Linked DNA regions of Homo sapiens. The gene in region 3 interacts genetically with the main gene of each other region. Each region holds a gene or a part of one and is shown on either strand. Other genes may lie near its edges. The genes, in order: CKAP5, ERH and MBTPS2.

Region 1 (2,969 bases), on a different chromosome or scaffold from region 3:
TAGTGGAGTGATCACGGCTCACTGCAGCCTTGACCTCCTGGGCTCAGGTGATCCTCCCACCTCAGCCTCCCAAGTAGCTGGGACTACAGGCTTGAGCCACTATACCCAGCTAATTTTTGTATTTTTTTGGTAGAGCCATGTTGCCCATGTTGGTCTTGAACTCCTGGGCTCAAGTGATTCACCCACCTTAGCCTCCCAAAATGCTACGGTTGTATGAGTGAGCCACCAGGCCCAGCCTTTGTAGCCATTCTTTCTAAATATGTCTTTCCACTATAGCAGCAAACGCCTCCATCATCCCTTCAGTGAACAAATACCCACTCCCATGTTCCCACTATAAAGGAGAGACAAGTTTAATTTCAGGAGGCTCCGGGGCCACCTGAAAACGATGACTGGAACCTTTACAGGATTAATCTTCCATCAATCTTTCATTTCTTGGACATCAATTGAATTGAAGGTGGGCTACAATAGGAAAGTTCCTTTGAACTTTATAACTGCCCAAAATCTCCTCCTGAATCCAGAACCTTTTCATCCTGAAGAGTTTTTCTGACTGTGGAGGGAGGTCCTGTGGAATTTATTCCAGAGGTGAATACTCAGCTCACTTTCTCATCCTTACTCTGACTGAATGTGAAGCAACTGTTAGCCTGGACCAAAAGAGACTCATACAACCAAGCAGCAAACCACTAAGATTTCCCAAACTCCATTAGTCAAATGAACACAAATCTAGTTGTAGTGTGAGAACCACTGAAGCCCAGCCAATCTCTGGGCGCAATCTTGTGTGCCTTTGGTCAGCAAAGTGGTAGGATGCCCAAGAGCTTCTTGAAACGACTGGTGATAATTGGAGGGAAATCATGACCAAAATCTCAAAACAAGGAAGGATGAGATTTTTCTGCTCCCTAGGAGCTGTTTGTGGAGAGCAGGGAAGGAGAGTTCCTTCCATTCCAAAGGAATAAAAGACAGCTCCAAGTCTGTGAGCCAAGAAAAAGGGAAGCTCTGTAAGCAGTAATTAACCTTTCTCTAACTGGCTGAATACCCAGCTGGTACCAAAAGTTAAAAAATTGCTGCCCAACACTCCATGATATGGAGCATCTTGGGAGTCAGGTATAGTTAATGCAAACTTTATTTATAAAAGACTCTTAAATTAGTTGTATCATGCCATGCATTCATACAGAATACAGTGACCCTTCAGGGCGACAGAGAAGAGCTCACAAACTGAAAGGAAAACTATTAAAGAGTTTCTAATATTAACTATTAAAAAGCTAGGAAAGATTAGGACAATTTTACAAATGAGCAATTAAAAAGAAAAGAAAAGGATCTGGGAACTAGACTGAGCAGAGAGGGGGCAGCTGTTTACAAGTCTGTACACTAAACTCATCCACGGACAGTCTTCTAGAGCAGCAGGACGCTGACAGAGAGAAGCAGAGTATGTACAAATACTTGTGCCACAATGACTCCTCCCCCTAGCTCCACGGCATGATACATACAACCAGTTTGTATACACTAGGCCTGCTGAGGCCATTTTAAACTATGAGGACTTCTAGTTTAGTAAACTAAAGCTGCAGGGTGCCGGGGGAGTGGGGCAGCTTCATTTGCGACTGCTCTTTATTCTCTCCAGTCTTTTTTTCAAGTCGTCTATGTTAGCTGTGGAGGAGGAGGAGGTCACAGTTCCTGAAGAGTGAGTCTGGTTAGAATCCAGGTCTGAATGCTGGTGCTGCTCCCGTGACTCCCGGAGCTGAGAGAGTTTGCTGTGGAGCATGTCTGTGGAAGAGGCGACAGTAGGAACTGCTGGTTTGGAGAGCAAAGAGGTCAAAGGAGGTCGGTCATCTTGCTATTGAGAGAAGGAGAGAGATTGTCTAAGGTCAGGTCAAGCAGGTCAAGATGCAGCTCCAGAACTACAGCAAGACTAAGCCACTTCTCTGTGGGCCAGCCTGCCTCGGACCTGCTTGTGACTACCCTCCCTGAACTGCACAGAAGAAAAGGAGCAGTACCTTTGTGTTGTCCAGACCACATCGCTGTCGGAGGATCTTTAGCCTTTCCAAGTAGACAGATGGCCCCACTTCTTCCCCATTTGTGTTACCTATGGAGGACACTGTGCTTGTGGGCGTGGGCACACATGTGACTTCCATCTGAGGGGAGATGCCTAGAGGGGAAAAAGTAGAAAGAATATTCAGATATCCACATATCCCCCTTCTAAAGTGCCTTGGTTAATCTCCCACCAAAAAGAACAATTAAGAATTTCCTATACTTGAAAACGACAAATTCCACAAGAATCTACCTGGAGTTGGTGATAAGGGTGCTCTGAAATATACAATATAAGCTTCTTGAGAATGCAAAAAACTGATATAGAAAGGCAGAATGTAAATTGGGTCATCCATCTGCATCCTGGGTTATGCAGGGGATTGTACTCCAGTAATCCCAGGGCTGACTTGGGCAATCCAAAAAGCTGAAGCTACTCCTAAGCATACTGTAATTGCCCAACTGAAAAACCCGAGGACCTTAAATGTTTGGAAGAATTAGATTAAGTTTGGACCAATGTCACATAGGAGAAACTCATTTGAACCTGTGAAGGAAGCAAGGTGTCCAAGGCTATGGTGTATTCATGGGGAAGAGAAGGTGTCCAACAATTATCTAAAGAGGGCATAGAACTGGAGTGTCTGTAACCCTACCACTAAGATCAATATTCTGGCAGGAGAGAGGAAAACCAAAACAACAAAAAATCCATCACACTTCCTAAATTTCTGAGAATGAACAATGATACAATGCGGGCCTTTAAAATATTTCACTTGGTATCAATGCAAATGCATTCCACAGGCCCCAAAGGTAAGGTACTGGGAGGAAACACTGCCTTATGGTAAATAGAAAAGTAGAAAGGTTACTCCAGGGAAAAAGGACTCCTTTAATGTAAAGATGAGGAGAATCCTCTGAGGGGGTGAAAAATGAATGAAGAATTATGTAAAAGCCAGCAATATGAG
Region 2 (3,736 bases), on a different chromosome or scaffold from region 3:
ATTAATAGCAAGCCCACATTACTAATTATAATTAGCTATAGAGTATATTATCTATTTAGTTTTTATTCAATAATACTCTCCTTTTTTTTTTCTTTGAGATGGAGTTTTGCTCTTGTTGCCCAGGCTGGAATGCAATGATGAGATCTTGGCTCACTGCAACCTCCGCCTCCTGGGTTCAAGCGATTCTCCTGCCTCAGCCCCCCAAGTAGCTGGGATTACAGGCACCCGCCACCACACCCAGCTAACTTTTTGTATTTTTAGTAGAGACGGGGTTTTACCATGTTGGCCAGGCTGATCTTGAACTCCTGACCTCAGGTGATCAGCGTGCCTCAGCCTCCCAAAGGGCTGGGATTACAGGCTTGAGCCATCGTGCCCGGCCTGATACTCTCCTTTCTTATTCCCACAAAAGGAGAATACACCTTTTCAGTCTATTCCCGCTGTCAACTATTTTAAGACTACTATGATGAATGGCTAAGTGACATAAATGCTAGTTATCTAGAAAAAACATGTCCTATACTGTATACATAAGCCTTTTATTAGCTCCAAATTAACTTTATAAATTTCCTAATAAAAACACTATTCAACCACAGAACTATTAAACAACTATCTTAGGGCTTTTTATTGCTACTGGCATACTACATTGTGATCACAGAATATCACCCATGAGTTAATGAATGGAAAGAAAATAAAAACTAGGAAAATAAATTCGTATATGTTAAAAAGGCATTGACCCACAGTTATACTTTTTTTTTTTGAGATGGATTTTTTGCTCTTGTTGCCCAGGCTGGAGTGCATTGGCACAATCTCGGCTCACTGCAACCTCTGCCTCCCGGATTCAAGCGATTCTCTTGCCTCAGGCTCAGCCTCCCGAGTAGCTGAGATTACAGGTGTGTGCCACCACACCCGGCTAATTTTTGTATTTTTAGTAGAGACGGGGTTTTGCGATTTTGGCCAGGCTGGTCTTGAACTCTTGACCTCAGGTGATCCACCCGCGTCGGCCTCCCAAAGTGCTGGGATTACAGGCATAAGCCACCATGCCCGGCCTCCATTATACTTAATGGTTAAAGACGGGATGCTTTTCTGTTAAGATTAGGAAGAATACCAGAATATTTATTGCGCTACTTGTATTCAACATTGTACTAGAAGTTCTAGCCAGGGCAATTAGGCAAGAAAAAGAGATAACAGGCCTTCAGATTGGAAAGGAAGAAGTACAGCCATCATTATTTGCAGATGACATTATCTTACAGATATAAAATCCTAAGGAAACAATAAAAATCTATTAGAACTAAGAAATGAGTACAGCAAGGTTGCAGGATATAGGATTGGTATATGAAAATAAATTTTATTTCTATGCCTTAACAACAAGTCTGAAAATAAAATTAAGAAAACTCCATTTATAACAGCGTAAAAAAGAATAAAATTCTTAGAAATAAACGAAACAAAAGTAGTACAAAACGTGTACACCCTACACTATAAAATGTCATGGAAGGACTCTTTTCTTTCCCTTGAGACACAGTCTCATTCTGTTGCCCAGGCTGGAGTGCAGTGGCCCAATTGCAGCTCACTGCAGCCTTGACCTCTTAAGTTCAAGTGATCCTCCCAAGGATCTGTGACTACAGGTACGCGCCACCATGCCCAGCTAATTTTTGTACTTTTTGGAGAGCAGGGGTTTCATCATGTTGCCCAGGCTAGTCTCAAACTCCTGGGCTCAAGCAATCCGCTCACCTTGGCCTCCCAAAGTCCTGGGATAACAGGTGTGAGCCACCACGCCATGCAGAAAGTAAAGCCACCACACCATGCTTAATAAATGGAAAGACATCCCATGTTCATGAGTTGGAAGACCTGATGCCAATACTCCCTCAGATGATCTACGGATTCAACGCAATTCCCATAAAAATCCAAGCTGTTTTTGCAGAAACCAACAAGCTAATCCTAAGTTTGACACAGAAATGCAGGAGACCCAAGACAGCCAAAATAATCTTGAAAAAGAAAAACACTGGAGGATTCAAACTTCCTGATTTCAAAACTTACTATGAAACTACTCCAATCAAGACAATATGGTATTGGCATCAGGATAGGTATCTACATCAATGGAACAGAAATGAGAGTCCAGAAACAAACCCTCACATTTATGGTCAACTGCTTTTTGACAAGCATGCCAAAACAATTCAACAAAGAACAGTATTTTCAACAAATGATGCTAGGACAACAGGATAGTCACATGTGAAAGAATGAAGTTGGACACATCTCTACAACAGACCAGAGACTTAAAAGTAGGAGCCCAAACTATAAGACCCATAGAAAAAAATAAAGGCATTAATATTTGTGACCTTGGATAAACCAATGGTTTCTTAGATATGACACCAAAAACACAAAAATATGCAAGTTAAAGTTTATAAAAATAAAAAACTTTTGTGCTCCAAAAGACACTATTAAGAAAGTGAGAAGACACCACAAACGGGGAGAAAACCTTTATAAAACATCTATCTGATAAAGGACTAATGTCTAAAAATATACAAAGAACTCCTAAAACTTAACCATAATCACTCAATGAAAAATAGGCAGAAGATCTGGATACCTCAATAAAGATGCAGATGGCAAATAAGCACATGAAAAGATGACATTGTATGTCATTAGGGAATTGCAAATTAAAACAATAAGATACCTTAGAATGGCTAAAATCTAAATCAGTGACAACACCAAATGCTGGTAAGGATGTGGAACAGAAACTCATTCACGCTGGTGGGAATGCAAAATGGTCCTGCCACGTCTGAAGACAGTTTGGCAGTTTCTGACAAAGCTAAACATACTTGTACCACATAATCTAGCAATCACTCTCCTACGTATTTACGCAAATGAGCTGAAAACTTAGGTCCACACAAAAGCCTACACAGAAATGTTTATAGCAGCTTTATTCATAATTGCCAAAAAATAGAAGCAACCAAGATGCTCTTCAATAAGTGAATGGATAACCAAACCATGGTACATTCATTCAAGGGAATATTATTCAGCAATAAAAAGAAATCAGCTATGCAGCCACACACACAAAAAGTAAGAACCATAAAAGCATACTGCTAGGTTGGCCAGGCATGGGGGCTCATGCCTGTGATCCCCAGACTTTGGGAGGCTGAGGTGGACGGATCACTTGAGGTCAGGAGTTTGAGACCAGCCTGGCCTACACAGTAAAACCCGTCTCTACTAAAAATACAAAAAAAGGTAGCCAGGCATGGTGGCGCAGGCCTGTAATCCCAGCTACTTGGGTGGCTGAGGCAGGAGAATCGCTTGAACCAGGGAGGCAGAGGTTGCAGTGAGCTGAGATTACGTCACAGCATTCCAGCCTGGGTGACAGAGTAAGACTCTGTCTCGCACGCCAAAAAAAAAAAAAAAAAAAAAAAAAAAGCATATTGCTAGGTTAAAGCAGCCAGTCTGAAAAGGCTTCATACTCCGTAACTCTAACATGACATTCCAGAAAAGGCAAAACTACAGATATGGTAAAAAGATCAGGGGTTTGGGGGTGGTGGCAGGGAAGGAGGTATAGGTGGAGCAATGGGGATTTCTGGTAGTGAAACTACTCTGTATGATACAGTAAAGGTAGATACACGTAATTATACATGTCAAAACCCACAGAATGTTCAACACATACAGTAAACCCTAACATAAACTGCGAACTTTAGTTAATAATAATCTATGAATATTAATTCACCAATCCCAACAAGTGTAATCAGACTAATAGAAG
Region 3 (3,500 bases):
TTTTCATCTTTCAAGACTCTTTTTTAGTTGTTAGCAATTAAGTGATACTTGTGAGGTCTATATTTGTAATGCTGTATTCAAGGTAAAATTGATCAAGATCCAAGTAACACACTTTTAAAACATGTTTCACACCAGAAAGGATACTTGACAAATGTCTCCACAACCACTGGCAGATCTATGCTTAGAAAGTTAAAACGTGGGATAAAACTGGTGATGCTCACTGAAAAAGAAAAATAAGGAATAATAAATATTATTCATACCAGAGAATCAACAGCATTATGAATTCTACCATATGGTTAAAAATTGGGCTAGCAGATTAAACTGATTGAGAAAGCCCTTCCTAAACATATGCAGGCCATATACCTCATATATAAAAGCAATCAATACTTCTAGAACATCTAATAAAAACAGCAGAATGAAAAAATACGTCCCAGTGTGTACTTACATTTTGAGGCGAGAGTAAGAAATTTACATTAAGAGTCCTTACCCTTTCAAAGAGGTATAACCTTAAAATTACATTTACTCCTACTATTATACTACTTAACCTCTTTCAGGTCTTTTTTTTTTCTTCATGGCTAAACCAAGGATTAAGATGAGGGGATTTAAAGTCTCATCTACTCTGTGGATTCCATAATCCTGTTTTTGTTCAAAACATTTTAAAACTATCCTGTAATTAGTCAGAACTCACAGTACACATTCCTGAATTACCCCCACTAGGGACATTTATTCATTTGTTGAGGTTTTATTTCATAGTTACAGTCTACAGTAATTTAGTGTCAAACTAATAGATAAGAAAAATGACCTCGGTTGTATCTCAGGATATGACTATGGAGCAATGAGAGAGTCTTTTAAAGAGTGACATAGGCTGGGTGCGGTGCCTCACGCTGTAATCCCAGCACTTTGGGAGACCAAGGCGGGCAGATCACCTGAAGTCAGGAGTTTGAGACCAGCCTGACCAATATGGTGAAACCCTGTCTCTACCAAAAATACCAAACATTAGCTGGGCGTGGTGGTGGGCACCTGTAATCCCAGCTACTCTGGAGGCTGAGGCAGGAGAATTGCTTGAACCCGGGAGGCAGAGGCTGCAGTGAGCCGAGATTGCGCCATTGCACTCCAGGCTGGGCAACAAGAGCGAAACTCCGTCTCAAAAAAAAAAAAAAAAAAAAAGAATAACATAAAACCCACATATCCATTAACTATGAATGAATAAAGAAAATGTGGTCTATCCATACAAAGGAATATCATTTGGCCTTAAAAAGAATGAAGTACTAATTCATGCCACAACACAGATAAACCTTGAAAACATTAAGCTACATCAAAGAAGCTAGTCATAAAATATTCCATTTATATGAAATGACAAGAACAGGCAAATTTATAGAAACAGAAAGTAGATTGGAGATTGCCAAGGGCTGGGGGTGTTGGGGAGATACAGGGAGTGACTACTTAATGGTTATGGAGTTTCTTTTTGGGGTGATGAAAATATTCTGCAGCTAGCTTGTGGTAATGGTTGCACAACTCAATATATTAAAAATCACTGGGCCGGGCACAGTGCCTCTTGCCTGTAATCCCAGCACTTTTGGAGGCTGAGGAGGGAGAATTGCTTGAGCTCAGGAGTTTGAGATCAGCCTGGGTAACAAAGTGAGACTCCGTCTCTACAAAACCCAAAAAATTAGCCCAGCACAGTGGAACACGTCTGTAGTCCCAGCTACTTGGGAGGCTGAGGTGGGAGGATCACTTGAGCCCGAGGTGTGGAGGTTGCAGTGAGCCAAGATTGAGCCACTGCATTCCAGTCTGGGCGACAGAGTGAGAATCTGTCTCAAAACAAAACAAAAACAAACAAACAAACAAAACCCCACTGAACTGTAAACTTTAATGGGTAAATCGCATGGTAAACTATTTTAAAAATCTTGTACAACAAAATGAGTTAGACTACATGATCTTTAGCCATAAAGAACTTAGTCCAATGATGCTGCCACTGCTAAAATGATTATGCTGGCCCAGTTTTGAAAGTATATTCATATGAAAGTCATGTGTCACACATAAATTACAGTTACATCCCCATGCATCCTGGCATTCTCTAGGGTATGTTGCTCTTGCCTGTTTTGGGGAGCTTGTATAAATTTAATAAACTCTCAGAGGACATCTGAGAGATCACCTATTTGACCTGGGCATAAATGGTAGGGAAGGAAAAATGTGTCACTCTCCATAGGCAGGCATGGATTCAGCTCCACCTTACTTTATAAATTCAGATTATTTTCCTACTGCATAATTTTCACTTAATGCTTAAGAACAAGTTAACAAGACTTTGATAAATGATCAAATTTATAATAAATGTATTAATTCAAGGATTTGTAGTGAGTCTCTACCACTGAGACTATATGTGATCTTAATGATTTTCTAAGGGTCTACCACAAAAATACTCACCTGTGTAGTGAAGATGCAGAGGATGTCCTACGTATAACATATCAATCTGAGGTGGGTGTTTTACTTTTATTAAGCGAGTGTGAGTTTCCAAAGAAGGTATTATACAGAAACTTGAACTTGAGCTTTTTTTACAGTCTTTATTGGTTCTGCAAACTTGAGTTGCTTCAACTGCTTTCCGGGCAGGAAGACATGTATGCTATAAATAAAATATTAATCAGTCAATATTAAAAATGATTAAGAAAAACCTAAGTTACATTCCTTCAATATTTTTCATGTCACCTAGCATATCAGGAATGAGGTTCATATAAAAGAAATGCCATTTATGTGCATCTACTATAAAATAGATTCAAGTACCCCATTTGGGTCAAATAAGATATTATCACTATAAATTTTTAAAGATTTTCAGATGAAATGTGACATGTGAAATGTAGAGATTTTAATAAAATGATACAAATAGAGCAAAAGAGAGAAGTTTCCATAGATTCCATTTTAGCTCTATATGCTTATTTTTTAGTAATTATATCAGACAAGCAAGACTGCTTCAGGGACAACTTACCAAACGCTTATTAAAATTATTTCTGTAGGAAAAGCACACATCTGTGAGGCTGTGATTGTTACAGCATTCAGTTGAACCATCTAGTCGTTTGTATGCTAAAGAGAAATACACTGTTTATTAGAGTCTCTTATATAAAAATACATTTGTAACAAAAAATGCCTTTAAGACAAAAAGAATAAGTAAAATGGCATATGAATTTAGAAGCAACTGTATAATTCAGAGTTCAGCTTGAGGGCTACTTGCTGCAGTTTGATTTTACATTACCAAAAGAGATCCATTCAATTTTAAATCATGAAGCAGCAGTTACCCTAGGTTAGTTGTCCTCATATAAACTGAGCTACCCATAAAGCCGGAGTTGCAGTGTCTCAGTAGGTTTCACAATAATAAGTCTGGCTGGTCAAGCACAAACATTTAATGAACTACTATTATGTGCCTGAATGCCAATGATCCAACATTACTGCTGAACCCCTGCACTGTGGTGCTGGTAAACAGAGGGGGCCAGAGGTTGCCTAAGACATCC

Evidence for each region.
Region 1: changes in MBTPS2 (region 3) and CKAP5 together harm fitness more than expected from each alone (negative genetic interaction), as found in Homo sapiens cells (one large-scale study listed by BioGRID).
Region 2: changes in MBTPS2 (region 3) and ERH together harm fitness more than expected from each alone (negative genetic interaction), as found in Homo sapiens cells (one large-scale study listed by BioGRID).

The regions. Positions count from the first base shown.
Region 1 is NC_000011.10:46,742,441-46,745,409, forward strand, and holds the end of CKAP5 (cytoskeleton-associated protein 5), read right to left. Parts: intron 2,138-2,969; coding exon 1,986-2,137; intron 1,826-1,985; coding exon 1,583-1,825; 3' UTR 608-1,582; downstream 1-607. UniProt on the Homo sapiens protein: Binds to the plus end of microtubules and regulates microtubule dynamics and microtubule organization. Acts as a processive microtubule polymerase. Promotes cytoplasmic microtubule nucleation and elongation. Plays a major role in organizing spindle poles.
Region 2 is NC_000014.9:69,388,283-69,392,018, forward strand, and holds part of ERH (enhancer of rudimentary homolog), read right to left. Parts: intron 1-3,736. UniProt on the Homo sapiens protein: May have a role in the cell cycle.
Region 3 is NC_000023.11:21,877,617-21,881,116, reverse strand, and holds part of MBTPS2 (membrane-bound transcription factor site-2 protease), read right to left. Parts: intron 3,076-3,500; coding exon 2,981-3,075; intron 2,621-2,980; coding exon 2,425-2,620; intron 221-2,424; coding exon 145-220; intron 1-144. UniProt on the Homo sapiens protein: Zinc metalloprotease that mediates intramembrane proteolysis of proteins such as ATF6, ATF6B, SREBF1/SREBP1 and SREBF2/SREBP2.